Homo sapiens: one gene and its partners. The protein of the gene in region 3 purifies or fractionates together with the protein of the main gene of each other region. This does not show direct contact. Each region holds a gene or a part of one and is shown on either strand. Other genes may lie near its edges.

Region 1 (7,032 bases), on a different chromosome or scaffold from region 3:
AGTTAAATGTACTTTCAAGGAGCCTAATATCCTTCAAAATAACTATATTTAGCAGATATAGAGTGACTTCTTTACCCAGGTTCTCTCAAAGTATCTTCACAAATGTGAGAAACTCCTTCAGTTCTACGATGAAAGAGCTCTCCATCTCCAGAGGAGCTACACTTAGATGCATAAGGCTGGTGGAAGAAGAGAGGGAATGGGGGTGTCAGCCATTACCCTCTACTAAGAGTCACTAAAGAACTAAAGTGGGAAAATTGTTTTATCAAAATTTTCTTTAGCCCTAACTTCCCGAGAACACGTTTAAAAAATTAAATCAAGGTACTTCTGTGCTGTGATTAGTTTCTTTCAAAACTTTTGAGTGCAGGGATAGCATTTTCAAATATCATACATACAACTTTTACTCTTCCACAGAAATACAATCAACTTTTAAAATGTTCGATTTCAGGTACTATACTGAAGTAGAAAATGTCTGCATTATGGTAACTGAACCCGTTGTTTTCTTCTAAGGTAATTTTACTTTTCTTTTCCTTGGTAATTATGGTAAACTATTCTAACATGTTCCAATCCCGAGTAGCTTCCATTAAATGTCTCTGCCCATGACCAGCCCAAGTATCCTGATTGTCAAATACTCTACCACAAAACCAACAGTTAAATTTAGCCTTCAAAATATTTTCAGAGGTAGTCTTCACAATCTGGTAATTGTTTTTGCTTGTCTTTTTGAGTGTTAATTTTAGCACAAATCTTTCTTTCACAGAACTAACAGGTTTAAATGTTTTGTGCCTCTTGGAAAAATCATCATAAGTTGTTTTAGGAGGGTTATAACAAACTGGTTTCAGTAAAGCATTTATAGTTCTTTTTGACAATGAAACCTTAAGTACATGTCCATTAAATTTAGCAATAGTTTTCATTACACTTACTACTTCTGGTGCATCTGCGTCAGGATGATTCAAAACTACAACTGGTTGGTTTCTCCTAGGACATTTCACAAGCTGTTTAGAACTAAAAGGGAAAAGCCGCAAAGTTCTGATGGAATCTTTTGAAAGCCTAGGTCTGCTAAATCCAAATGTTTCACGGACATCTTCAGGTTTTGCCTTTTCTTTACACTTTCTATGCAATGTTGCTTTTCTTCTTGGAGGTTCTTGGTAACTATCCCTACACTTTCGTTTACAGTTTCTGTTTCTAGATACAAAGGCAGTTTCAGAGTCTTTACTTCCATGAGTTTTTGTTTTTGAAAAAATTTTTTTGGAAGTCTTTTTTCTATTGAAGTTCCTCTCAATTCTACAATTTGTTTTACACCTTAATACCCTGGACTCTGAACAGTCACTGACACATATTGGTTCCTCAGAAGATTCTGGGCATGTTGCAGTAGAAGTTATCACAATTTCATTTGCTGGCATTAAGTCATCTAGTAAGAAGGGTAAGGCATCTCTAGATTCTGGCTCTTTCTGCTCTCCTCCTATAATCTGATTAGATGGTACGTTGTCTTTTTGCAATGAGGATGCAGAGTTGCTTACTGACAGATTATTAGCAGCAGTCACATTTAAAACAGGGTTAAAAATTTTCAGCAATATTCTTTGTGGTGTTCCTTCAGGTTTCTTTGGCTGTATATTTTGATAAGTACTATTTTGGACTAATTTGGGCTTAAGCAGCTCAGTTTTATTTGGCATCACACACTTTAAAAAAACAGCTTGTTTGCCATCAGGCAAGAAGGTATAAAGAGGTGGTTTTGGAAAAATCTCATTCTGCTGTTTTACTGAATCGGAGATATTCAACTTAGTGCTCTGTTGCTCAGATAGCATGTTAGGAATAAGAACAGCTTTCACAGAACTCGTTGGTTTCAAAATGTAAGGGCCTTTTAATGGCAAAGTATTTTCTGAGCTACTTTTCATGCTCAAACAACTGCCAATGCTGGAACAAAGTCCAGGTGTAAGACAATTATTGTTTGGTTCTACCTTCAAAATAGGTGTTTTGCAAGGCTCCTTAGTCACAGTTCCACGAGCTGGGGCACCCTCGGTTTTGACAGCGGAAACACCTTCAAGTTTCCCATTATTAAGTGTTAAAACCATCCCAGGTTTCTTGTTTACAAAAAGAGAAGCAGGGATACCTTGTGAATTAACCAATGGAAGTGCATTTCCAGGAATAACTGGTAGCCCAGGCTTGTTAGTAATGTTCAATGGTATTAAGAATCCTTTTGAAGTCTGAACAATTATAGTTTTTTTTTGTTCTGAATTTAAAAGTGGACTCTGCATATAAAAAGAACCTAAATTTTGTGTGGTGGCTCGTAGTTTGTCTTTTACAAGCTGCTGTGTTATTATCGCATCTGACTGAGTCTTAAGTAATGTGCCAAAACCTGAAATTCTAGGCATCTTCTCTGAATCTCTCACATCTTGTGGTATTGATGACACTTGTTTTTCTTTTCCAAATTTCAAATTCAAATCATTTGTAGGCACATTAATACCCACACTGCCAGGTGGAACTGGGAAGATGCCTTGCACTTTGAAATCTTTCGAAGATTCAACAATTTTGCCTTCTCTCTCGTGTTTTTGAAATGACTGGTCACAATGAAGTGGCAAGCCTTTATTTGGAGTGTTACTAGAGTCTTGTTTTACATCAGGTTTTATTTTCAATACATCCTGAAGCAATTGGTTTACTTCAGGTGGCAGAAATTCTGATGCCTGTTGGCTCTGGAGAGAGAAAACAGATGTGATTCTAGGCATCATAGGTGAATCGACATTAGAAAAGTCTTCCCATTTAGATTTTTCAGTCGCACACTCTAAATTTTGATTTTCATTACTGTACAGGTTTTGTCCATCAATGTTTTGTCCTTTTTCTAAAACATACTGTTCTTCAATTTCAGATTTTGCTTTTAAAGTTCCATCTTTATCATTTAAAAGGCTAATAGATGCTAATAGGCTATCTGGTTTTGAGCTCTCCTGCCTCACTAGTGATAAAAATGATTCACTAATTGGTTGTTGGACAACTGTTTTGCTGGATGAAGATTCTCTTTGAGGGTTTTCATACACTGCTGTTCCTGAAAACCTACGACGTTTATTAGAATTATTCACTTTTGAGTAATTATGAAAAGGTAATGATCCTTGGTTGGAGGATTCAACAGGTAACTCACAGTTGCCATAATTAATGCAATAATTATGCATATCTCCACTGTTGTATGCATTTGGTTTGGCAACACAGTTGACTTTATCTGGACTTTTAATGGTGGTACCTAATACCTCGGGGTGACTCTGAGTGAGATGATTTCCCCAGAAGTCAACATTATCTCTTGTTTCAAATTTTGTGGTCAAATTCACTGATGCTGTAACCAATTCTGATGTTGCTGACAAAGAAGATACACTTTTCTCATAATCCATTGTTTGAAGCATATTATTCCTTTGAGATATCAAAGTCATTTCTTTTTCTGAACTTGCTTTCCCTGAAAGTATAGAAGATGAACATGAAAATGGAGTAGCTGCTTTCATATAAACTGTGTCATTTAACTCAGTTGTTACTCCTGTTAAAAATCCATTAGTGTCCAAAGTCTGGGGCTGCAAATTAGCAGTACCGTCCTTTGCAGCACCTGACTGTGAGCCTGGTGAACATACATTTTGTTTGATAGGCACCAATTTTAATACAATATGCTGTTTTCCATCCATCATCTTGAAGCCCATAAACGTAGCATTATAGTTAGGGGAAACTGCTAGTTTATTATTTTTCATCATTACATTTTTCAGTGTAGGTCCTAGTACAGCAGTCTTCATGAAACCTGAACTAGCGTTTGGTCCCTCTTCAGCTCTATTACCTTGCCCAGTGGACAGAGGAGTTGGCTTCTCTGACTCTGATTCAGGGGCTTTATCATTATTCTCACAGTGTAGTCTTTCATCCTTTTCTTCACTTAAATGCTCTTGAACAACATGGCTCTGGTCTTCAGATTTAGTCTGTGTTTTGTTCATTTTCTTAAGCACTTGAGTGTTCTTTTCTATACTTCTGTCACTTCCACTGTTAATTTTCTTACGTTTCCAGAACGTCTTCCTTGATGCACCTATTTTATATCTTTTCAGTATTAGCTTAAGTCCTGCAGAAGTCTTTGCCATTCTTTTTTCATATTTGTCTTTTTCCAGTTTTTCTTTTGCATATAAATGTTCTTTGTGCAAAGTTATAACATGTCTTACAAGGTGTTCTCTCCTGGTGGCACCATAGCTACAATATTGACAAGTGAAGGGAAAAGTACCAGAATGAATATGAAGGTGCTTCTGAAGCTCTCCTTTGGTAAAACATACATGATGACATTTACCACACTTATAATGAATTTCATTATGTCTATGAATGTGCTGAACAAATGTGCCAACATCCTGGGTGGAGAACTTACACTTTTCACATTGAAAATTACCATTAACACAATGTGTGGATGTGAAATGCTTTGTCAAGTTCAGTAAAGTATATACACTCTCATTGTTACAAATGTCACATTTTACTAAAGTGCTTCTATGGGTTCGTCTGTGTTGTTTAAATACCTGAAAGTCATTTGCTGAAAAGTTGCACATTTCACAAGGATATGAAGGTAATTCGCCATGGTGCCACATTTGAAAGTGTTTCTGCAAATCATTTGGGCTATATCGAGTGTTGTCTCGGCATTTTAAACAGCTGAAATTGAGTATTTTTGCAGACATTTTTACACCCTCTTCTTCAGCTCTCTCAGACTTATGAAGCAATGTACACTCCTCTACACAGCTTACAGTCTTTATACTGATAGATTTTCTTGCAGTCTGCTGTTTACTCTGAAATAATTTTCTGTATTTGTCAACTTCATGTTTCAATAGGACTTCATTTGGAATATTTATTTTTGGCAAATCAATTTTCACATTTTTTAGTGCATAATGAATACTTCCTGAAATTTTTGGTTTAGGTGCCGACCTATCAACTATCTCATTTTTCACATCATAATCTTTTTTTAAAGTAGTTTGTTTTTCATCACAAAATAACTGTTTCTGTTCAGATGGCATGATTTAACCAAAAAAGTCCCAATTTCTTTTTTTCTGAAAACTCTTGAAGTTATCTGTAATTTAAACAGGAAACGATACTGTGTAGAGACATCTTCAATATACAGGATTTTTCCCACAATAACTCACCTAAAATTAAACAAAGAATTGAAATTCTCATCACAAAAATAATAGTAAATTCGTATCTGTAAGTTCATTTTGGCACAAAGTAGGAATGTTAATCAAAAACATAAATTAAATATACAAAAGACTTTTTAAGTATTTTAAGAACAGCTTACCAAGAAGTAATAGTTTGAAGTAAAAATAACACTAATCTGGAAGTCAGGAAATGCAAGCTCTAGTTCCAGCTCTGCTGTGTGACCTTGGGAAAACTTCAACTTCTCTGGACCTCAGTTTCCTCATCTAAAGAAAACCACAGTTGGGTAAGTACGCTCAAGCGCTAAGATTTTTATATTAAGGTGATAATACAGTTTTTAAACAAGATTTTAAAAATCTTAGAATCCTAAGAAGTTCCAATTACACACATGTGGTTTATCCATATACTATTAACTTTTTCATTTGCTTAGTTGATCTAATAGCTATTCCCTGTGAGAATCCCAACAGACTTCTCTCCAGATTTTCTATTTCCTTAGTTCCTCAGGGATAATCTACAATTAAAACAAAAGCTTCATTCATCTAACGGAAACAACCAAAGACGGTATCTGCTTATCATTACTAACAAGTTAGAAACCAAACAAAAAGAACAAAAAGGAAGAAATTAAAAAGAACAGCAGCACCATTTCCCTAGTGTAGTCCTAAAGTCCATCTACTCATTACCTTTCTGGTTCCCTACCATTTTGGCTATATGAATTTATATCCTCAGAACTCAAGCCAGATGACAGCAAGGAAAAGCCCTTGGCAGATTAGAACATACCCATCACTACCTACCTGCATTAATTCAAGCACTTACTGGTCATGTTACTTTAGACAAGTCTCAACCTCTGTGTCTCAGTTCCTTCATCTGTAAAATGGGGGGAAAAATTAGTACTTCCCCTATGTCTTTCACAAGGTTGTTGTGAAGATAAAATGAGAAAATATATGTAAAAATATCCTTTAAAGTGCCATATAAATCACAGCTACCACTATTACTCTATGTGATTACCACGTATGGGACATAACAATATATTGTTGAGACAGGAATCTGAATACTGAAGGTTCAGTCATTAATATATCAAACTGTATTATTAGAAAAATTACATGTTTTTAATTTTGTGCTTTATATATATATATATGTATGAATAGACAAAATCAGATAAGCTAAACAAAACATAGTATAAATCACATTAAGCTCCTCATCCATAATGTCTATCCAAAGGTCTCAGCTTTAAACTTCAATTAATCTAAATACCTACAAACTTTACTGTTTTAGAAATCCTTTACTGAGGGAATCATTAAAAGTTGAATTACATATTAAGAGATCTATAATAAATTAATCAGAAGGGTACCAATTATTGAATTGTTTTACATGCCATGACTAATACAGTAAAATGTGAATCCAGAATGGGATGTTTGTCATAAAACTTTAGTATTACAAAGAAAAGGTAACACAAGATGAAGGCCTCATGAAGGGTTTTTAGGGCCCTAAAAGAAGAAAAGCTGAAAAAGTAACTGGAACTGTCAGGAAACCAGGAGAAAAGGCTGAGAAGAATTATCTGATGGCTATTCTTAAACTAAGATGGGGCTTACAGATGATTTCAGAATGACTAGCCAAGCAGAGCACTTGTCTTTCTAGGAGAATGAACTAGACACTAATTGAAGGCTCTACAATCCAACAGTCAGGTTTTAACTCACTGCTTTGTTAAGAGAAAAGAAAAGAAAAAAAAGAAAAGAAGGCAGGAAGGAAGGAAAAAAAAGAAAAGAAGGAGGGAGGGAGGGAGGAGAAAGAAACGAAAGAAGGAAGGAAAGGAAGAAAGGAAGAAAGAAACAGAGAAAGAGAAAGAAAGAAAAGATTGATGACAGGGTCTCACTCTGTCGCTCAGGCTGCAGTGCAGTGGCACCA
Region 2 (7,032 bases), on a different chromosome or scaffold from region 3:
CACTTCTTGAAGGAAAGAAGTCCACTCTGTTGCGACTGCACTGAGGGGTACGCGAAGAAAGCATGTGGAAATGAAATACAGAAGTCATTATATTTAGGAAGAGTTCCTTGCCTCTAAGAGTTAGGCGCTTCCAAATGAGAGGCTCTAAGAGGTCACCATCCCCCTTTCCTATGCTCTCCAACAGGTCCTAATGGCTGCGGGAAGCATGTTCACCTCACCTGGTTATTTCTTCTTTCAGAGCAGCAGGGTCTGCAGGATAAAACTTCACACGGAAGCACATGGTGAATGGAGGCTGGGCTGCAGAGAAAAAGAGGTGCTCATCAGGGAAGACTCTCACCCAGAAGAGGACAGGGCTCTTCTGCCCACTAGCATGAAGCAGCAGAAGAGAACCCTCATATATTTAGGGCCAACTTATACTCAGAACAGTGGGAAATTATATATGTAGATCAAAACTTGAGATAAGTGGGAGGTTTCGTCCCACCCTCCCCAGGGGTGTGGCTTGAGTCTTTTCATGGAGAATACTTACATCTCAATTGTTTCACCACAGACTTTGTAAATTCCAGCCAATGCTGAAACAGAGAACACAGAACATGAAAACCCTAATGAGAAGGGCTGTAAAATATAACTTGTTTTCTCCAACTTAAAAAACTAGACAGATTGTAGCCTAGGGTGAAAGCAGCCCAAAAGCTTATGAAAGATAAGTTTGGTGAGTAAAGAGTGATATGATTTTCTGAAATGAGCTCCCATGGAGCCAGCTGTGAAGGGGGGAATAGTTCCAGCTTCAGATGCCATTTATGGGCTTCCCTGGAAATGCTGTCTTCTAAAGCAGGGTGCCAAAATTCTGAGCCATGTTTTTGGCATGCGATTAAGGCACAAGCGACTGCATGTATGTGTGGCGGGGACAGAGCCCCACCTGGGTTGAGTCGGGAAATACTGACTTTAATGGGTGGTGTGTGTTTCTGTTATGCACCAGCTTTTTTTTTCTTCTTTTTTTGGCAGGGGAGTGGGAATAGAAGATTTTGGTAGCAACTCTAGAAAGTAGTGAGAAGTGGAAATTTCCTAAGTCAGGGATGGCTGGTATATATTCCATCTTTCTTTGAGTAACATAAATTGCCAACCCTTGTGTTAGAAAACACATACTCAGGATTCCTTGGCATCCAGTGATGTTTTAAAATCTAAATCTCAAATGATAACTAACCACAACCAACGTGTAGGATAGTACCTTCTTCCCCTTGGATTTTTCAAGGAGGCAGGACATAGAGGCAGAATACATTTTCCCATGGTACTTAACGTCTGGGGGAAGCAATGAAACCATTCTATATGTGTTCCTTAATTCTACATGGGTCCTTTATAAATTTTATTATTGATGTTTGTTGCTTTTTGCTAATCAAGATTAGGTAGGACTGCTATTAATTGGAGTTTGATTATCCAGAGGTAGCTTAACATTGCCAGATGTAAGCTCCATGAAGGCCCAGAACTGTCAGTCTCGTTTACCACTGTATCACCAGTGCCTAGCACAGTGTTCAATAGGTAGCTGCTGAATGGCAAAGGGACTGGGCCCATACTTCCTTCTTTTCTGGCTACTTCAATTTAGTGTAATGTCTTGGCAGAGTCCTCCCTCTGGCAGGAGAGCAGCCAGGGCGCTGCAGTCAGCATCCTGGCCTCCCTTGATTCCCAGTGATCACCTTCTGGGCTGGGCCATGGGTCATGCAGTTAATGGACCCACTAAGAGCCAGTTCTTCTGTCAGCTCCACATGGATAATCTGGACTGACATTCTGCTCTCCTGCTTCTGCTGATCTGAGTTCCCACGAGGCTGGCAACTCATTATAGCCACTCAATGTGGTTAAGAGGCCCTTCTCACATTACACGGCCCACCGCGGCTCAGCTTCACAGGGAGGCAAAGGCAAGAGATGAAATTGCTCAGAAACAACTGGGGTTCCAGGGTATGCCTGTGAAGACGGAGGAGGCCTATCTGTTCAGAGCACACTGGAATTGTGGACAGTGAGGAGAACATAGCCAGTGCCAGGGATTCAGTACACAGAACAGCAACACCCCCAGACATTAGACTGATAGATTAAAAGAAATAAACAAAGGAAGGTAGAAATTAATGACTGTGAGATGCATTATCAGCAGAGGGCAGATAAAGCTGAATGACAAAAGCCTATTCCCCTTGACAATAGCTAGAAAGAAGATTTTAGTTTTATTGTAGTGAGAGCTCAAGAAAGGACTGAGGCTGGAGGATAGTAGCAAGGGGTGAGAAGGGACTGAAGAGCTGTCACAGCTGATCCATGGGATTTGGAGTCTGGCAGAGAAATCTTGAGAGGAACCCAAGAATATGGTGATGGCCAGAGTGGCTTTTTGCAAATGCCTGACCAAATCGGTCCCAGATTCACTAGCAAACAGACAACATGGGCTTAGGGAGGAGGGATTAAAAGAAGAGGAAAAGAAGATTCAGAGAGGAGGGTTTCCTCCCCTATCTGAGTGAATGGGCCAATGTGGCACAATCTTCAGACTCTAGGGGCTTGAAAGGGTACAAAGCAGAGGCCAAGAGAAGGTGGAGGCCCTGGGCCCGAGTCAGGCATCCTGGGGAAGGAAAGTAAGGGCAGCTCCTCCAGGAGAGACCAGGAGAGCTTGCAGATGCATGGAGGCTCCTGCAGAGCAAGGACTGACATCGGATGGATGTAAGTGCTGGGTTCAGACTGTCTTGAGACCCAGGGAAAGAGGTTTATTTTAGGCCCTTACACCCTGAGGGAGCAGGGGAGCTCAGCTCCTCCATCCCTACCATGAATCAGTGGACTAAGGACAACTCTCTACAGGTCCCCATTTCCCTACAACCCTCAGTTACTGTCTCAAGCCTCTCTGCTCTCCTTAACCCCTCCCGCAAGGCACAGAATTACACAACTTTCAGAGGCTATCAGTTATACATTCAGCATGGAATCTCAGAAACCACACTGGCCCTGGAGTCAAACAGGTCTGAGCTCGAGGCTGGCTTTGCCACTGACCTGGGGCAAGTTACTTAACTTGTCTGAGACTTTATTTACTCATCTGGATAACAGATATTATCATTAGGGATACTCATCTCATTTTGTTAAGGATGAGATGGAATAACATACGTGAAGCTCTTAGCTTAGTGCCTGGCACGACTCAGTGAGCAGTATACATCAGCTGGAAGAATTAGGTTTGTGTGCAGCGCAGAGCCTGGCAAGCAGTAGGAACTCCATAAATGTTTACTTCTCCTCTTTCCCATGTTCTTATCTCTCTCTAGTTCCTTCTCATTTTAACCTTCACCACATCCACATATTCTCTTACTCTCCTCAAGCACATTCTGACCTAACTAAAAAACCAATGAACAGGATACAATTCGCCTTTTTTTCTTCATATACCACCACTCTAGGGGATGAAGAGATCTTGGAGTAACTGGCCCTCCTTTTTTTTTTTTTTTTTTAAAGACAAGAGTCTTGCTCTGTCTCCCAGGCTGGAGTGCAGTGGTGTGATCTTGGCTCACTGCAACCTCCACCTCCCGGGTTCGAGTGATTCTCATGTCTCAGCCTCCCAAGTAGCTGGGACTACAGGCACATGCCACCATTTCCGCGAATTTTTGTATTTTTAGTGGAGACGGGGTTTTGCCATGTTGCCCAGGCTGGTCATGAACTCCTGGGCTGAAACAATCCGCCTGCCTTAGCCTCCCAAAGTGCTGGGATTACAGGCATGAGCCAGTGCACACAGCCAGCCTTCCTTTTTAAGGATAAAAGTTTGGACCAAACAAAGAAACACCATCATTACCTCTCTACTTTGGTGGGGATGCCAGAGAGTACATCTCCACAAAGAGCAAAGGGTAGATGAAGGGAAGTTATAGAAACTGCAGGTGTCTGCAAGCTGGGAGGCTGGGCAAATGGACGTAAGAAATACAACACTATAAGCCATTAACTCACTCATGCATTCATTTCTTCAGAAAATATTTATTGAACACCAACTACATTGTAGGCCTGTGCTAGTTAAATGGGAGATAGTGATGAATGAGACAAAGTCCAGGCCCTCATGGAACTTACATTTTTGCAGGGAACACAGGTAATCACAGAATGATGTAATAAGTGCTATAACAGGGTAGCAGAGGGCACATGGGGGCCCATAGGAGGATCCCTAATACAGAGTGGGGTTAGGGGAGATTTCCCAGAGGAAGTAAAAGTCTAAGCTGAGACCTTAAGTGTGAAAAGGAGTTAGCTGGAAGAAGGGTGTGGAGTGTGGAGCGGTAAGGAAAAGGAGAAGATTCTAGGCAGGGGAACTCTATAGGTGAAGGCTCTGTAAAGAAAGAAGGTATGATGTATCTGGAGGGCAAAAGTATTACTGTCTGGCGGGACCACAGCAGGTTGGGGAGATGAAGCTGGAGAAATAGGCAGGGGCCTGAGATGATGGACTTGTTCCTGAATCTGTCTGGAATATCAGCACCCTTGGCTATCAGAATGCCCTGTGTCTGCAGAGCTGCCTATGCTGTGTAGAGCAGAGCAAGAACTGCAAGATCTGCAAGGTGCTGAAAGGCCCGCGCTGGTTTGGCTCTGTCTGTACTGCCTAGATTGGGTTGGTATGGCACCTTTGGTGAGGCCTTTCCTAACCAGTACAATGTGCTTCAGCCTGCTTACTAGAAAGTGGGCAGGAGAGGCTCACCCTGTGACTTGGGCTCCGAGACCACAACTCCAGCCCAGCTGCTCTGCCTCCAACTTTGTGCAAATCATTTAAGCTCCCTAGCCTGCCATTTCAGCAACTGTAAAATGACAAGCTTCTCCAGGTGAGCTCTAGCCAAGGTGCCTTCCAGGTCTAATGCTATGATCTGAAGAGACGACATCCAACTGCAGGGTCTGGTTGGTCCCTGATTCCTGAAGCTTGACTTTGAATATGAATGACAGTTCAAGACCTCAGTCTTATTGACTAGCCCTGTCCTCCTTTTGTGCTTTGAATATTGACTTACCCGCTGCTTATCTGGGTCTACAAAGCGGATACCAAAATAGTCTTTCTCAAGTAGGTTCAGATGGTGGCAAAGAAGGTCAAACAGGTACTGGCCTTTGGCATCTCTCTGCAAAGAAAGAAAACTCCATTGAGAAATGAGTGGGTTTCTTCAGTGTAACTTTTTTTTTTTTTATAGCCATTAAAAGTTGTTTGTAACTGTTGCATGTGTCTATGAAAGGGGTGAATGTCCATAACTATGTCCTCCACATTGTGATACATCACTCACTGTCTGGAATCCAGAGGCTTTTAGCACCTGGAAGGAGCCCAAGAACCCTTCCCACCACAAAGATGTCAGAGAAGTCAGGGTAGAGTCAGGTAAGCCCAGTTCCCATCTCAAATGCACAGAGAGCTTTCTTAAACTGTGGGTGTAGGGAATGTCAGTGTGGAATACAGCAATAATTACACCAGGCCCAGCTGACTGAGCCTCTAAAGTAAATCTTGAATCCATTCACTTCTCTTCCTCTCTGTTACCAACACCATAGGTCAAGCCACCACCATCCCTCAACAGGACCACTGCCAGAGCCTTCTAACTGATCTTCTGCCTTTGCTCTTGCCCTTTCAGTCCATTCTCCGCACAGCAATGAGGGTGTCCACAATTTAGACATCATCTCTTTCTTGCTGAATAAGTGATCAGGCACATTGTAGGATATTTAAACAAACAAAAGGATATACTATGAACAGTAAGTCTCCCTTCCACCCTGGCCACCCTGTGCCCCAGTTCCTCTCCCTAGAAGCAACTGTTATCAGCTTCTTGTATATCCTTTTTTTTTTTTTTTTTTTGAGATGGAGTCTCGTTCTGTCTCCCAGGCTGGAGTGCAATAGCGCAGTCTTGGCTCACTGCAACCTCCACCACCTGGGTTCACACGATTCTCCTGTCTCAGCCTCCCAAGTAGCTGGGATTACAGGCATGTGCCACCACGTCCAGCTAATTTTTGTATTTTTAGTAGACACGGGGTTTCACCATGTTGGTCAGGCTGGTCTCTAACTTCTGACCTTAGGTGATCTGCCTGCCTCGGCCTCCCAAAGTGCTAGGATTAAAGGTGTGAGCCACCATGCCCAGCCCTCTTGTATATCCTTTATGTGATGTTTTATACACAGGCAAACCTACATACATATACATCTCCTCTTTTAAAAATACATTTTGTAACATATTTTTAAGCTCTTTTCTCCCACTTAGGGTATCCTGCAAATCCTTCTATGGCAATATATATAGATATGCCTCACAGTTTTTAACTGCTGCATGTCACTGCAATGAATCTAAAATTATTTACCCAGTTCCATATTGATGACATTTGTTTCTAATTTGCTATTACAAACAATGTGGCAGTGAACATACAATGATCTTTATGTTACTCACTTCTCTTAATTCTTGTTGCTCTCAGAATAAAATGAAAACTCTGATCATGGCGTCCCAGGCCCTATACAGCCTGGCTTCTCTCTGCACTCACCCAAAATCATTTTCCTCACTACACTTCAGCCATGGCCTTTCCGTTCTGAACTCCCCAAGGCTTTTCTGCCACTGTCTTTGCATTCCCTCTGCCGGGAATGTTCTTCCTGCAGCTCTCTGCAGCCACTCCTATTTTTTGAGGACTCAGCTCAAATGTCCCCTCTTCAGAGAGGCCTTTCCCTATAGTACAGCCCTTCCCAGTTACTTTCCATCTCATTTTGCCATTTATGTCCTTCATAGCACTTATACCAATCTGTAATTATCTTGTTGATTTGTTTAGTTATCTATTTACTATCTGCTTCCTTTCTAGACTGTAATTTTCATGAGGTCAGAATCCTTCCCCCAGAACTTAGCACAGGGCCTGATGCATGGCAGGCAGGTCCTCAATAATTATTTGTTGAATAAATTACTGAATGAATAGAAGGGAAAAGGTTTGCTAAAAGATTTCACAAAATGGTGAAAAGCTAGGCCGTTTATAACCCATAACCTTCTACTTCAGAGACCTGCCTGGATGCCAAGGGTGAAGTGGGAGGAGAATGACTTGCAGGAACCTGTCAAAACATCTGGAGCCTGCACAGCATCC
Region 3 (7,032 bases):
AAAAGAAATAATAACAAAAAGCCTACCAGGTCTCTCTCTATATATGTATATATATATGTATGAGTAATTATCTGAATGCAAATAAAAAATTGAAAGCAGAATCACAAGATATTTTTCATGGGATATATGAGAGGGGAACACTGATGTGCCTAGAGGACAAAAAAGTAGAGACAATCAAAACAGTTTAAAAAAAGAAAGAAAGAAAAGTGCACTTAAAAAAAGCATTTATGTGAAAAGTTATGGGGCTCTTTAAAATAATATCTTGTGGGTATATGTATACATTAAACTAAAAATTTTTTAAATTTAAGATTACGATTAGCCTCATTAAAACAAACATTTTCTAAATGTTTAAGTTCTCACAACGTGAGGAATTTTTTGTAAATGCTCAATTGCAAGATAAATACTTAGAACTATTAAGAATACAACAGAAACAAAATATTCTTGTTTTGCACATTTCATTATGGTTTGTGAGTTAAGATTTCACTCTGAAGGATAATCCAACACATAATGTCCACAGCAGAGTTGTTAAATTCGATAACAACTAGCAAAATTAAAATTAAAGTAAAGAATAATTTGAAATTGGCAGGAAAGATGTCTTAAACAAACAACTGCAAGGAAGGCTAAAGTGTTTACTAAGACAATTTTTTAAAATATAAGCTTACCTCTTTCAAGCATTCTGAGTCCTCCTCCCTCTGGCCTGTTCCCTCTGCAGAACCCAGACAAGGAGGAAGGCTGGGACTGAAGGCCATGAGGTCCGTCTTATGCGGGCCCTCCCCAGAGCACACCCTCGGCCGCCTCTGCTGCGAGTACGACCAACTCCCTGCCGCGCTGGAGCACACTAGAGTGGGCTTGCCCGGCGCGCACGCGCCCTCGGTGGGCGGTGCCGAGCACCGCAGCGCAGTATACAGCAGCAACGTGAGCACCAACAGGCTGGACACCGCGCAGATGGCAATGATCAAGTAAACATTGACATCCACCAGCGCCGCTTCTGGACCCACAGCGCCTGCCGACGCCCTCGACGAAGCCTGTGGCGCTTGGCCGCTCTCCACCAGCGACAACAGCACCGTTGCCGTGGCCGTCAGCGCGGGCTCACCGTGGTCCTTCACCAGCACCAGAAGGCGGTGGTGCGGCGCGTCCACCTCGTCCAGAGGGCGCGTCGTGCTGATCTCGCCAGTGTACAGCCCCACGCGGAACGGGATGCGCGCGCCGACCGCCGCCAGCTGCAATTCATACGAAAGCCACGCATTGTAGCCCGAATCGGCGTCCACCGCGCGCACCTTCGCCACCACGTGGCCTGCACCCACCGACCGCGGCATCAGCTCGCTCACTGTGCCTCCCGCGCTGCCAGCCCCGGGCGTCAGCAGCGCCGGAGCGTTGTCGTTCTCGTCCAGCACGAACACCTGCAGCGTCACGTTGCTGCCCAGAGGCGGCACGCCAGAGTCGCGCGCGCTCACCTGGAACTGCAACAGCTCCAGCTCCTCGTGGTCCAACGGCTGCAGCGCGTACACCTTGCCGCTCTCCGCGTGCACCGACACGTAGCTCGACAGCGCACGCTCGCCCACCCGCCGCTCCACCAGCGAGTAGGAGACCAGCGCGTTCTCCTGTGCGTCCGCGTCCTGAGCAGACACCGTGAAGATGTGGCAGCCCGGCGGATTGTTTTCCTTCACGAACACCGTGTACTCGGGCTGCGCGAACGCCGGCGCGTTGTCGTTCACGTCGGCCACCCCCACCGACACGCTGGCCGTGGCCCACAGCGAAGGCGAGCCCCCGTCCCGCGCGGTCACCACCAGTTCATAGGCTGATACGCTCTCGCGGTCCAGGGCGCTGTCCAGCACTAATGAGTAGTAGTTCTTGTAGGTGGACACCAGCTTGAAGGGGACATGCGGCGTCAAGGTGCAGGTGACCTGTCCATTTGAGCCAGAGTCACGATCGGACACACTGATTAGGGCAATAATGGCGCTAGGCTGAGTGTCTTCTCTGATGGGGAGTGACAAAGAAGTGATGGTAACCTCTGGGGCGTTATCATTTACATCTAGTACTTCCACCAAAAGGGTACAATGACCCGCCATTGGAATATTTCCTTTGTCAACTGCCTCCACGGATATTTCATATAATTTCTTTTCTTCGAAATCTAGTTTGCCTTTTGTCCTAATTTCTCCATTGTTCGGATTTATGGTAAATGCATATACCACTGCAGGCCATACAGGCCTTCTAAATGAGTAAACTATATCTCCATTTGTACCATCATCAGGATCTGTGGCATTTAGCTTGATCACTAATGTTCCATTGAAGGCGTTCTCTAACACCGTCACTTTATAAACGGATTGGTAAAATTCCGGGGCGTTGTCATTCACGTCCAGAATCGTGATGAGCAGCTGAACTGTGCCAGTCAGCTCGGGTTTACCTCCATCACTGGCTGTCAGTAATAAACTATGTTCCTGAATTTCCTCTCTGTCCAGTGTTTTCCTCAGTACAAGTGATAATGAAGACATTTGCTCAAGACTGTTTTGTGCGTCCAAAGTGAAATAATCGTTGGGATCCAGTCGGTAGGTCAATGCCGAGTTTACTCCAATATCTGCATCGGATGCGCCATCTAGTGGAAATCGAGTTTCCGGAGGTCTAGATTCTGCAATGATTATTCGTTTCTTGCTTTCAGGGAATATGGGCGGGTTGTCGTTAATGTCCCTCACCTTCACCTCCACATGGAAAACCTGCAGAGGCCTGTCCACGATCACCTCCAGGTGGATGCTGCACTCCGCGCTCCGCCCACACAGCTCCTCGCGGTCGATCCGAGAATTCACAAACAAAATGCCATTCTGCAGATTTACCTCCAGAAGGTCCCCGTGTCTTTTGGACGCCACCCGGAACAGGCGCGGCACCAGCTCCGCCAGCTCCAGCCCCAGGTCCTGAGCGATGCGGCCCACGAAGGTGCCGTGTTTTGCTTCCTCGGGGACGGAGTAGTGGAGCTGGCCACTACCCGTCTCCCAGGCTGCGAGGATCAGAAGCCAGAGCAGTAGTTGCCGCGGTCTTGGGCCTCCTTGCCAGGAAGACAGCATGGTACACTCCAAAAACCTCAGAGCTATCTGCAATATATACAACGCCTTACCTCAAACTGTCTCTCAAGGCCCAATTTTTATGGCTTCCTAGTGCGGAAGGATTCGCAAGAGGTATTCCGCTTTCTGCTATATTTTCTGCAGGAAGAAAGAAACGGCGGCTTTCTTCGCGGAAACGTTCTCAGTGAAGAGCGACACCATGCGCATGAACGTGTAAGTGTAAGTATGACTCAGTCTTCATATTTTCCATTGATGTAGTATTTTTTTGCCCCTTGCATTTCCTGACATTTTCACTGCAAATATGTAATTGAAGATTAAATGTTTACCTTCCCAGAAACAGCAAATCACTGCATTCTGCTCAACATTTTATATTAGCTGACAATTGGTTGATGAGTTTCATTTTGCCACAAATTTATTTTTCCATGTGTAAGAATTCCATGCAGAACTTTAAGACAAAGAATATTCGACACTCGTTTTGGGACAATTGATCGGTAGTTCTGCATAGTCATGTAGGTTTTTGTGGTACTGTCCTCTTCCTGTAATATTTTTCAAGACCTCCTCACACAACAGCCATTGACTCCAAAAGGAAACATAACAATCACATAAGAATAAAATCGGTGAAGGTGAAAAATATTGGTAACTGATATATCAGATTTTGAATAAGCACATCATATTAATAAATTTCCCTCAATGTGACTTGAGATGTAGATAAGATATTTATATTCAAAAGAAAGTGTTCAGTCAATATGTGTGGGATTTTGTATGTGAGTGTGTGTATGTGCATAAACACAATAATTTAGCCACAACAATGCTCTAAGGTTTTGGATTCTGTTTTTATAAAATATGCCTGGAACTAATATCCTATTGATTTAATAGAATTTAACTTACCGCCGCCGGCTGCAATTCATACGAAAGCCACGCATTGTAGCCCGAATCGGCGTCCTGGTTAAATAGAATTTAACCAGGAGGTTAAAGTTTCCATTTTCTCTCTCCATCTTACTTCATCATCACTGAGTAAAACCTTGCCGTCATTTAAATTGACTTTAATTTTCCAAGAAACAACAGCTAGACAAAGATGTTAACATATCTTTAGCAAGGAAAAGAGGAAGAGGATCTTACTTTTATCTATTGTTATAACTATCTCTACCAAGCCACAAAATCCCAGGCCAAATGGTGTAATGAAAAATATATCATAGCTCCAATAATTATCTGGCCTGTTCTGTGCACAACTCTATAGGAAATGACTGTTGGGTTTATTTCCATAGCTCTGCTCTCCTCTGAAAATTTAGGCAGAGTATTTGGTATTCTCTTACCCTCATCATCCTCTCCTGCTCCATTACTTTTACTAACATAGTATTTCTCTTCTAATTCTTTCTATCTGGCCCTACATTTCTTTATTTACCTCTTCACATAATTAGACTACATAGTCAACCATTTAAAATATGCCCTTCCAGACACTCTAGAGTCATTCACCTATTTATATTACTCCTCTAACATTCTTTTTAGCCTCCAACACGCAGTTACACTGACAATCCATTTTCTCTATGCTTCCTATTAAGCTGCTCAACATTGTCACTTAACCATGACTATTCTCTTCAAATTTACTCTCACCTTTACCTCAGTTGGGCTCTCAAGTGAATTGATAATTAACTCCTCCCTCTTGCTTACAGAGATTCTTCCATATTCTCTTTCCTCTCTTCTCAAATTCTCAACCTCATTTCCATCAGTTCACTTTCAGATGATTCACACATTGAGAGATGTGACCAAACAGAAATTCAATTGCTCTCTTCTTGTGTCATTTTTCCTTATATTATCTGTTTTCATTTTCTACTAGTTGTAAGGAAAAACTGTTCCCGCTTTTAAGGTCAACCATATGCTCTTAAAAATTATTTTCTATTCTCTCATGGTTTTCATCTAAATTCACCTGCTGCCTGTCTTATTTTTAGTATCTTATTTTTTACTTGTTTCTTTCACTCACACTATGAAGATAGTCAAACTTCTTTAACTAAAATATGTATACATACACACACGCACATACACTAATTTAAATGTTCTACTTCTGGTGGAAAACCTCTTCTGTTTATCTTTTTCCCTTCATGTTTAACTTCTAACATATACTTGATATATTGCACTTTGAGCTTTATTTCAGCTTCCTGTTGTCTATCCTTCTATGATTTTAAGCCTACTATAATAGGTTGAATTGTGGTCCCCAAAAAGTTATGCCCACATCTTAATCCCTGGAACTTGTGGATTTTACTTTATATGGTGAATAATATGATTAAGTTAAGGATCTTGAAAGGAGTTTATCCTGGATTATCCAGATGGGCCCTAAATACAATCACATGTACCTTTGTAAAACCAACACATAGAGAGAGACATGGAGAGGAGGAGGCAATGTGACCATGAAAGCTGAGAAGGCTGAGATGGGAGTGGTACAGCCACAAGCCAGGGAACACCAACAGCCAATAGAAACTGGAAGAAACAAAAACCAGATTCTTCCCTGGGGCCTCCAAAGAGAGTATAGCCTTGACAACACCTTGATTTTGGACTTCTGGTCTCCAATACTGAGAAATAATAAACTTTTGCTGTTTTACAGCACCCAGTTTGTGTTCGTTTGTTATAGCAGCCACAGGAAGCGACACACTTACCCACCTAAGTACCTGGACACATTGTTTTTCACTTTTCAATGTCTGTCTTGGCAATTTTATTCTTTCATGGATTATTTTTTTCTCTAAAGGAGTTGTTCCCAAAATCTATATCAATAATCTCTTCTGAGATCCAGACCCATATTTCCAATCACAACGGTATTCTCTTAGGACTTCAAAGTAACATTTTCTTAAATGTTCATCTCCATTCCCTACCTGCTCAAATACACACAAACTGTTTCTCCAACCTTGTTCTGCAGGTTGGTTAATGGCAATGTCATCTTCTCAGCTGAACAAACTAAAAAAGTGAGAGTCAACTTCTACTTTTGTTTTTCTCTTATCATTTGTATTGAGTCTGTCATTATCTGGCTGCTTCTACTTTGCCAGTGCCTCTTGTATATGTCTTTTTCAATTCATTTCTACTGCCATAATTTAAGTCTCCATTACTTGATACCTAATTTATTAAAAAAGAAATAGCTTTCCTGCCTTCACAATCTCCCCTGCTCTAATCCTTCAATTACACCATATACTGTGCAGTTGTTCCTACTTATCTCTCTTAACACTTTCTTGGTAAAATGTTGTCTATCTTTCAAGACACTCTTCAATAAAACATTATCTGATTTCTAGGGCATACTCTCATTTCTAAGATAGAGGGGAATGTCCAGGTAATACATTTCAATACCATATATTTATTTAAAATTATTGATTGAAGCTGGGAGTGGTGGAGCCTGCCTGTAGTCTCAGCTACTTGAAAGGCTGAAATGGAGGATCAGTTGAACCCAGAAGTTCTAGTCCAGCCTGTGCAACATAGCAAGACCCCCATATGTTTTTAAAAAGTGATTGAACATATACTATATTCCAGATCCTAAACTAAAGATATGTAAGAAAGTAGATATAAGGCTGGAAATTTTAATGCCTTTACTACCAGGCTGGGGTATGTAAGACTTTATTCCCTGGTTAAAGAGAAGCCTCTGGATATTTTTGTAGAAATAGAAAGTTAAAATATGTAAAATGCACATTAGAAGATTCACTTGGTAATAGGCACAGGGCAGTGGTATACTATGATAAGTTTGGGATCATCTGAAACTGGTTTGAGCCACAGTTGGTTACCAACTGTACTGTATCGTACAGATGGTTAAATATTTTTAAATTGAGAAATGATTTTATTATATTTCATGTAAATAAGAATAGTACAGTATCTATTCCTACTTGAAATAAAGAAGATATTTTGTGAGCAATGAAGAAAATCATTCATCATATGTCAGACATATCATTTATATTATTGTGATAATACCTGGAATATAATGTGAAAATGTCTAGATTGTACTGAAATT
Region 4 (5,283 bases), on a different chromosome or scaffold from region 3:
TTACAGGTGTGAACCACCAGGCCTGGTCAGTTTTCTCATTTTTTTTTTTTGGAGGGGAAGATATAATGTAGTTTGTAGGCAAAAATTACAGTAATATTAATGATAATAACGGTCTTAATAATAGAGTCCTGGGATGGTTCTACTGCTAGCCACCTGCTGGGAATAGTTCTTACGACACACCTGGGGCAGTGTGGCACAGTGCAAAGATACAGAAGCATCTGGAAGTTCTGGGCCCAGTCAACCCTGGCTGGGCAAAGAACATTCTCTTGGAGTTTCTGTCCTTGTAAAGGAAGAAGTCAGAAGAGACACTCCTGGTCTCTTTCTTCATTCCGTCTGTGAACTCGTGTGCTGAGTCCCTCGGGCCTGGGGCAGCCTGGGCCTGGGGCAATCCCTGCCCGCAGCAGACAGAGCCCCTTTTCTCTCTGATTTACCTTTCCTGGGCTTAGAAACACAATTAGTTGTGACAAATGACCAACGCCACCAAAAAAAAAAAAAACAAAAAACAAAAAACAACAACTCCACGGAAGCGGTGTAGACATATTTTCATTTCTTTATTAGAAAGAGGTCTCTACACCATAGCCACCTCTCTCTGTTACTTTACACATCTTTCTTTTTCTTTTTCCCTTAGAATACTGTACAGCGGACACAAAAAAATCCCAAGGCAGGAAAATACAAACTGGCATATTTAATCAAAACAAGATCATATGAAATAACAAGCAAAGTGAAATGTCTGTCAATGGTTTTAATTACAGTACAAACAATATAAATAAAGCATCATTGAGTCATTGTGAAACATAAAGTTGCTGAATGAGGTAATAGAAAACATCCAAAAAAAAAACCTAAACCCATCTGTGGATACACCCACGCTGCCCTTCCATCTCTATACACTGCTATTTACAGAAACAGAAAACTGGCTGCAAGGTGGGTTGGCCTTCCCTGCCCCTGCCTAGAAATGCATCTCAGTTGTCACCTTTGAGCTGCTCCGGCTGCCCTTTAGGAAACGCACCCCTGTGGCAAGATGAGAACCAAATTCCAAGCTGGCAGAAGGGAAGAGCCAGTGCAGGAGACCTGCCCCCGGGACCCGTGCGACCCTCCCCTCTCCAGGCTGAGCTCAATAAGGGCCTCCCCAGCGCTCAGGTGCTCGGGGCTGAGAGGGGCTGCAGTCTGGAGAATTAGATGTATTTCAGACACAAAAACCCAGCCGTGGGAGGGAAACTGATGCTTTTCAAGTCTGCAAGAAGGAATTATTTCTAACGTTACAGTGCTGGTCCCTCTCCCCCCGTTCTTAACGCCACGAAGCAGCTTCTAAATGCACACTTTGCCACCCACCATGCAACTGCCCCACCCCTCTCCAGCCACCTGTGTACCCTCAAAACAGCCATGCTGAGAGCCCTGCTGGGACCCTTGGGGCTGGGTTGGGATGGGGGAGGTCCCTCGTGCCAACCTGAGCAGTGCGTGAGACCCACTCCCCAGACCAGCCCCTGGCTCACTCCCAACACCCTTGGAGCCTTCTCTGTTCTCCTACCCTGAGAACCCAGGCAGGAAATGCATTTGCCCAGGGACCTCCAGGAATGTCAGGGGACACCCCAGGGCTGTGGTATTGGGCAGGGGGCTGGGCTGCTTCCAGTGTCTGCATGAGGCCCATTAGGATTCCATGCACCTGGACTGTCCTTCCTCAAGTCCAAAGGCCCCTGACATCCTCATGCCCAGCTGCTGACCGAGTGGGCTTCCAGTGTCTTCTGTTTACCAAAGCTCTCCAAGCGGCTCAGACGTTAGCTTCCTGGGCCAGTGTAGACTGTTCAGCACCAGGGAGATGAGGGTTTAATTGGATTTAGGGGCAGCTGTTCCCAACAGCTGGTGTGTTAAGGGGGTTTGCTCCACTGGGAAGATTCCCCAACACACTCATGCCTTGTTTGGTTCCTTTCTTTCACCTGCATCTCAAGGCAAAGGCCATGCAATCCCCCCACGGGGCATTCTAGATCAGTCCGATGTGGACTTCGACAAGGAGTCTCTATCATATGGTTTCACCATCCTCAGGTTGGGGGAGTGCTCCCTACAGGTACCCTGTGCCAGGCCAAAATGAAAACCAAGCCCTGAGCCAGCCTCTCCTCACATTCATGAGGATATCCTGTTTGGGGCACATGGAGCGGCTGCCCAGCTTGGGCGTCCCAAGGTCGGATGCCACAGCTGCCTGCTGGTCTCACCTAGCAGCCTTAGGCCTGAGCTCTGGGGCTTTCAGAGCCCATGCAAGTCTCTGCTGGCCACTCTGGCCCCATCTGCCCACCTCCAGGCCCTGAGGCCCATCTGTAGAGGGTGAGGACCTCAGACAAGAACAGTTCTACCCAACAGGTGCAAAACCCCAAACCAAGTGCTGTCATTTTACACCAAAACCAGCATCTCATGGTGAAAGACAGTAAGAATGGGTTTTCAGATTTAGGTTTGCTTACCGCTGCTCTGGGGTGGGTGTTTACTACACTGGTGAACTTAAATACTTTCTCATACAACTCAAAGATTTAAAAAAGACTTGTTGGTTTCCCAGAATCCCTTTCCAGAATCACCTGCCAATGCGGACATGTGACGCGAAGAAAGCCGCAGACACACTGATTAAATGGGGGGGCCATTAATATTTCAACAGTCTATTTAAGGGCAGTATTTCTTCTCTAAGGGGAATAAAGTTTGTGTTTTGAAACAGTAATATCTAAGTAAATATTTCTTTCTTCATGGAGAGGGGAGGAGTCTGCCACAGGGGTTTCTGTCTAATCACAGACGGGACACTGGCCACTTCTCTCTAATCACAGACAGCGCAGCATCCCAGGGGCCAGCGATCCAGTTCACTCTCTGCCTGTGTCGGAAGGACCAGTCTGAGGACTGTTTCTTAGTGATCCAGCTCCAAGGTGTACTCTAAGGAGATACACCTGCGCCCCTTCTCTCTCCTGCATAATGGGAGGAAAGCTGACATTTTGCTGAAAAGCAACCTAATGTATGTGGTTAAATGATAGAGGGCCCGTCCCCACAGCAGGGCTGGGGCAGATCTGTCCACTGGGCAGGGCAGGGGGGTCTCCTGGCCCCACTCGCTATCACCTGAGCGTGCTGGCCTGGCCTGGGGGCATGGGGAGCAGCATTAAAGACACATGACCACAAGGGCTCCCTGAAGAAAGCCACTCAGAAATCCAAGCGCAAGCCGCGGAAAGGTGGAGAATGCACGCATTGATGCCAAAGGCCCTTATTTAGCTTTTTGGGGAAGGATGAGGGTGACAGTCATTCAAGATGTGACTTCACAACATGTGAAACCCCCGTCTGAGGCAGCGGTTGGAAATAAATTACATTTCCTTTGAAGGAAAGATGTGTATCTCCAGCACTTTTCTATCTGAACTCCTCCTTGACTGCTTTTCAATTTGTTTGCTTGAAGGCCATAAATACAACCCCGGGGAGTTCTAGAAAAGTCTCAACGACCTTGTGCAGGCGGTGAGGGACGGAAGCAGAGCACATGCCGTGCCGGGAGGTTTGGGGTTTGCTTTCCAAACACCTTTGCCTCCTGAGTAGTTGCTGAGGCCTGATCATACCGCATCTCAGGGGAAGCTACATCGTTGCCAGGCTTCCCACCTCCTGGGGCAGGAATGTGGATTTCCTCTCATTTCCAGAACATCCTAAGTGCAGGGAGGGAGAGTTGGTGTCCTGGGCGCCACGGGGACCTAGAGCGCCTACGGCACATTGGAGGCTGCAGGTTGAGCAGGCCACTCTTGTGGGGTAAGATGAGTCCACCAAGTTCAAGCACAAAACACGCTGGGAACCCGAGGATGGGGAGAGAGGGACGGGCCTGCAGCCAAGCACGGCGACCTGGGGTGCTCTCCAGCAAGCTCCGATCTCAGACAGGAGGAGGAGGGGAGCACCAAGCAAGGCCCAGTGCACGCGTGAGTCACAGCGGCTCATGGCAACGGCAAGGGGGCATCTTAAGGGAGGGGCGCTGTCCACGTCAACGGCACCTCAACAGGCTGTGGGGGAGAGGGAAGGGTCGTCTTGGCCCTGATCAGCACCAGCGAACAGCACGAGGGCAGAACTCAGCCCCTTCCTCGCCTCTAGAAAATCAACCTCAGACTACAAAGCAGAATATACATGTTGAGAAAAGTGGGCAGGTTCCAGAGAGGCTCTCAGGGAGCAAGGACCTCATTGATGCTGTTCCCCGCCATGTGGAGGGCAGGGCACTGGCAAGCTGAGAGAGGAGGGTCCTGGGCTCTACTGGGGGGGGGGGGTTGGCAAACGTGCCCATCACAGCCTCCCCAGAATGCAGGCTGGAGGACAGTGTCAGCCACGGGCAGGTTTCCTGGTGTGTGCACTGGCTTCGGTCCCATCAGTGTTTCTGTTATTAACAAGTGCTCCTGTTCTCCCAGCATCCCCTGGGCCAGGTGTGAGGCCAACACTTATCACACTGGTTTGAAACCTCACTGCACCCTGCAAGTTTCACAGATGAGGAAAAAGAGCCCAGGAAGCTGGGTGCTTGCCTAGAGTTGCAGAGGAATCCTCTGGAAGGATGGCAGGGCCAGCTGAGCCTAGGGGTCTGTCTTTCTCATTAGACCATGTTTCTCCCTAACAAGGTTAGCAATAGCTCCTATGCAGATATAGGGAATGACCCCAAATGTGCAGATGTCACAAAAATAGGAAGACTGGTATCTACACTGGATGACGAGGCCGGAACCATGCAGGCCTCATCAGGCTGGGTGAAATCTCAGAAGAGGGAGCTTCAATGCAAGGCCCTTGTGCTGAAAAGCCACTGCCGAGAACTGGCCTGTGCACTAGAGGCTCTGCAGGAAATGCAATTCATTAAGATCCCGCTCTCTCCTGTGTCTGAGAACCCTGCGATTGGCGAGTGACCCGCTGCCTTCTCCCTCCTTTCCAGTGCATATATACATTGTGCACACACTTGGGAGACAGGACACTGCACCTGGTTTTGGGGCCAGTGACTCAGGAACTTGTCACTTGCTCACCCTCGAGCTGCTCATTTCCTGGGATGAAACAGAGAGAGGGACCAGGGACCAGGACTGGGGTGCTGGGCGGGGGAAACCATCTGCCCGTCCCAGCACCTGAGGTCAGAATCACAGAGTACTGTCCCTGCGGGGTGTTTCTGCTGCAGCCAGGTCTGCACCACACCCCTCCACTCCCCGCCAAGTTCAGTCTCCGCGAAGCTGAACGCGGGGGTGCAGATGTGTCCAGATCACCCATGGGGTTACACAGGCCGCTCGTGGGCCTCCCTCAGCTGGCTGTTTCTCATCAAGGGAGAGTTTTAAT

The links.
Region 1: the proteins of PCDHA12 (region 3) and ZNF518A purify together in Homo sapiens (affinity purification with mass spectrometry; 2 studies listed by BioGRID and IntAct, with this or other methods). This does not show direct contact.
Region 2: the proteins of PCDHA12 (region 3) and FRMD5 purify together in Homo sapiens (affinity purification with mass spectrometry; 2 studies listed by BioGRID and IntAct, with this or other methods). This does not show direct contact.
Region 4: the proteins of PCDHA12 (region 3) and AGAP1 purify together in Homo sapiens (affinity purification with mass spectrometry; 2 studies listed by BioGRID and IntAct, with this or other methods). This does not show direct contact.

What each region holds. Positions count from the first base shown.
Region 1 is NC_000010.11:96,154,288-96,161,319, reverse strand, and holds part of ZNF518A (zinc finger protein 518A), read right to left. Parts: intron 5,995-7,032; 5' UTR 5,944-5,994; exon of another isoform or gene 5,397-5,943; 5' UTR 5,273-5,396; intron 5,124-5,272; 5' UTR 4,998-5,123; coding exon 546-4,997; 3' UTR 1-545.
Region 2 is NC_000015.10:43,919,241-43,926,272, forward strand, and holds part of FRMD5 (FERM domain-containing protein 5), read right to left. Parts: intron 5,070-7,032; coding exon 4,965-5,069; intron 570-4,964; coding exon 527-569; intron 298-526; coding exon 219-297; intron 41-218; exon of another isoform or gene 1-40. UniProt on the Homo sapiens protein: May be involved in regulation of cell migration. May regulate cell-matrix interactions via its interaction with ITGB5 and modifying ITGB5 cytoplasmic tail interactions such as with FERMT2 and TLN1.
Region 3 is NC_000005.10:140,878,293-140,885,324, reverse strand, and holds part of PCDHA12 (protocadherin alpha-12 isoform 1 precursor), read right to left. Parts: intron 3,202-7,032; exon of another isoform or gene 3,057-3,201; coding exon of another isoform or gene 633-3,056; exon of another isoform or gene 445-632; intron 1-444. Other genes in the region: PCDHA13 (protocadherin alpha-13 isoform 1 precursor), read right to left, coding at 663-3,056. UniProt on the Homo sapiens protein: Potential calcium-dependent cell-adhesion protein. May be involved in the establishment and maintenance of specific neuronal connections in the brain.
Region 4 is NC_000002.12:236,127,043-236,132,325, reverse strand, and holds the end of AGAP1 (arf-GAP with GTPase, ANK repeat and PH domain-containing protein 1), read right to left. Parts: 3' UTR 533-5,283; downstream 1-532. UniProt on the Homo sapiens protein: GTPase-activating protein for ARF1 and, to a lesser extent, ARF5. Directly and specifically regulates the adapter protein 3 (AP-3)-dependent trafficking of proteins in the endosomal-lysosomal system.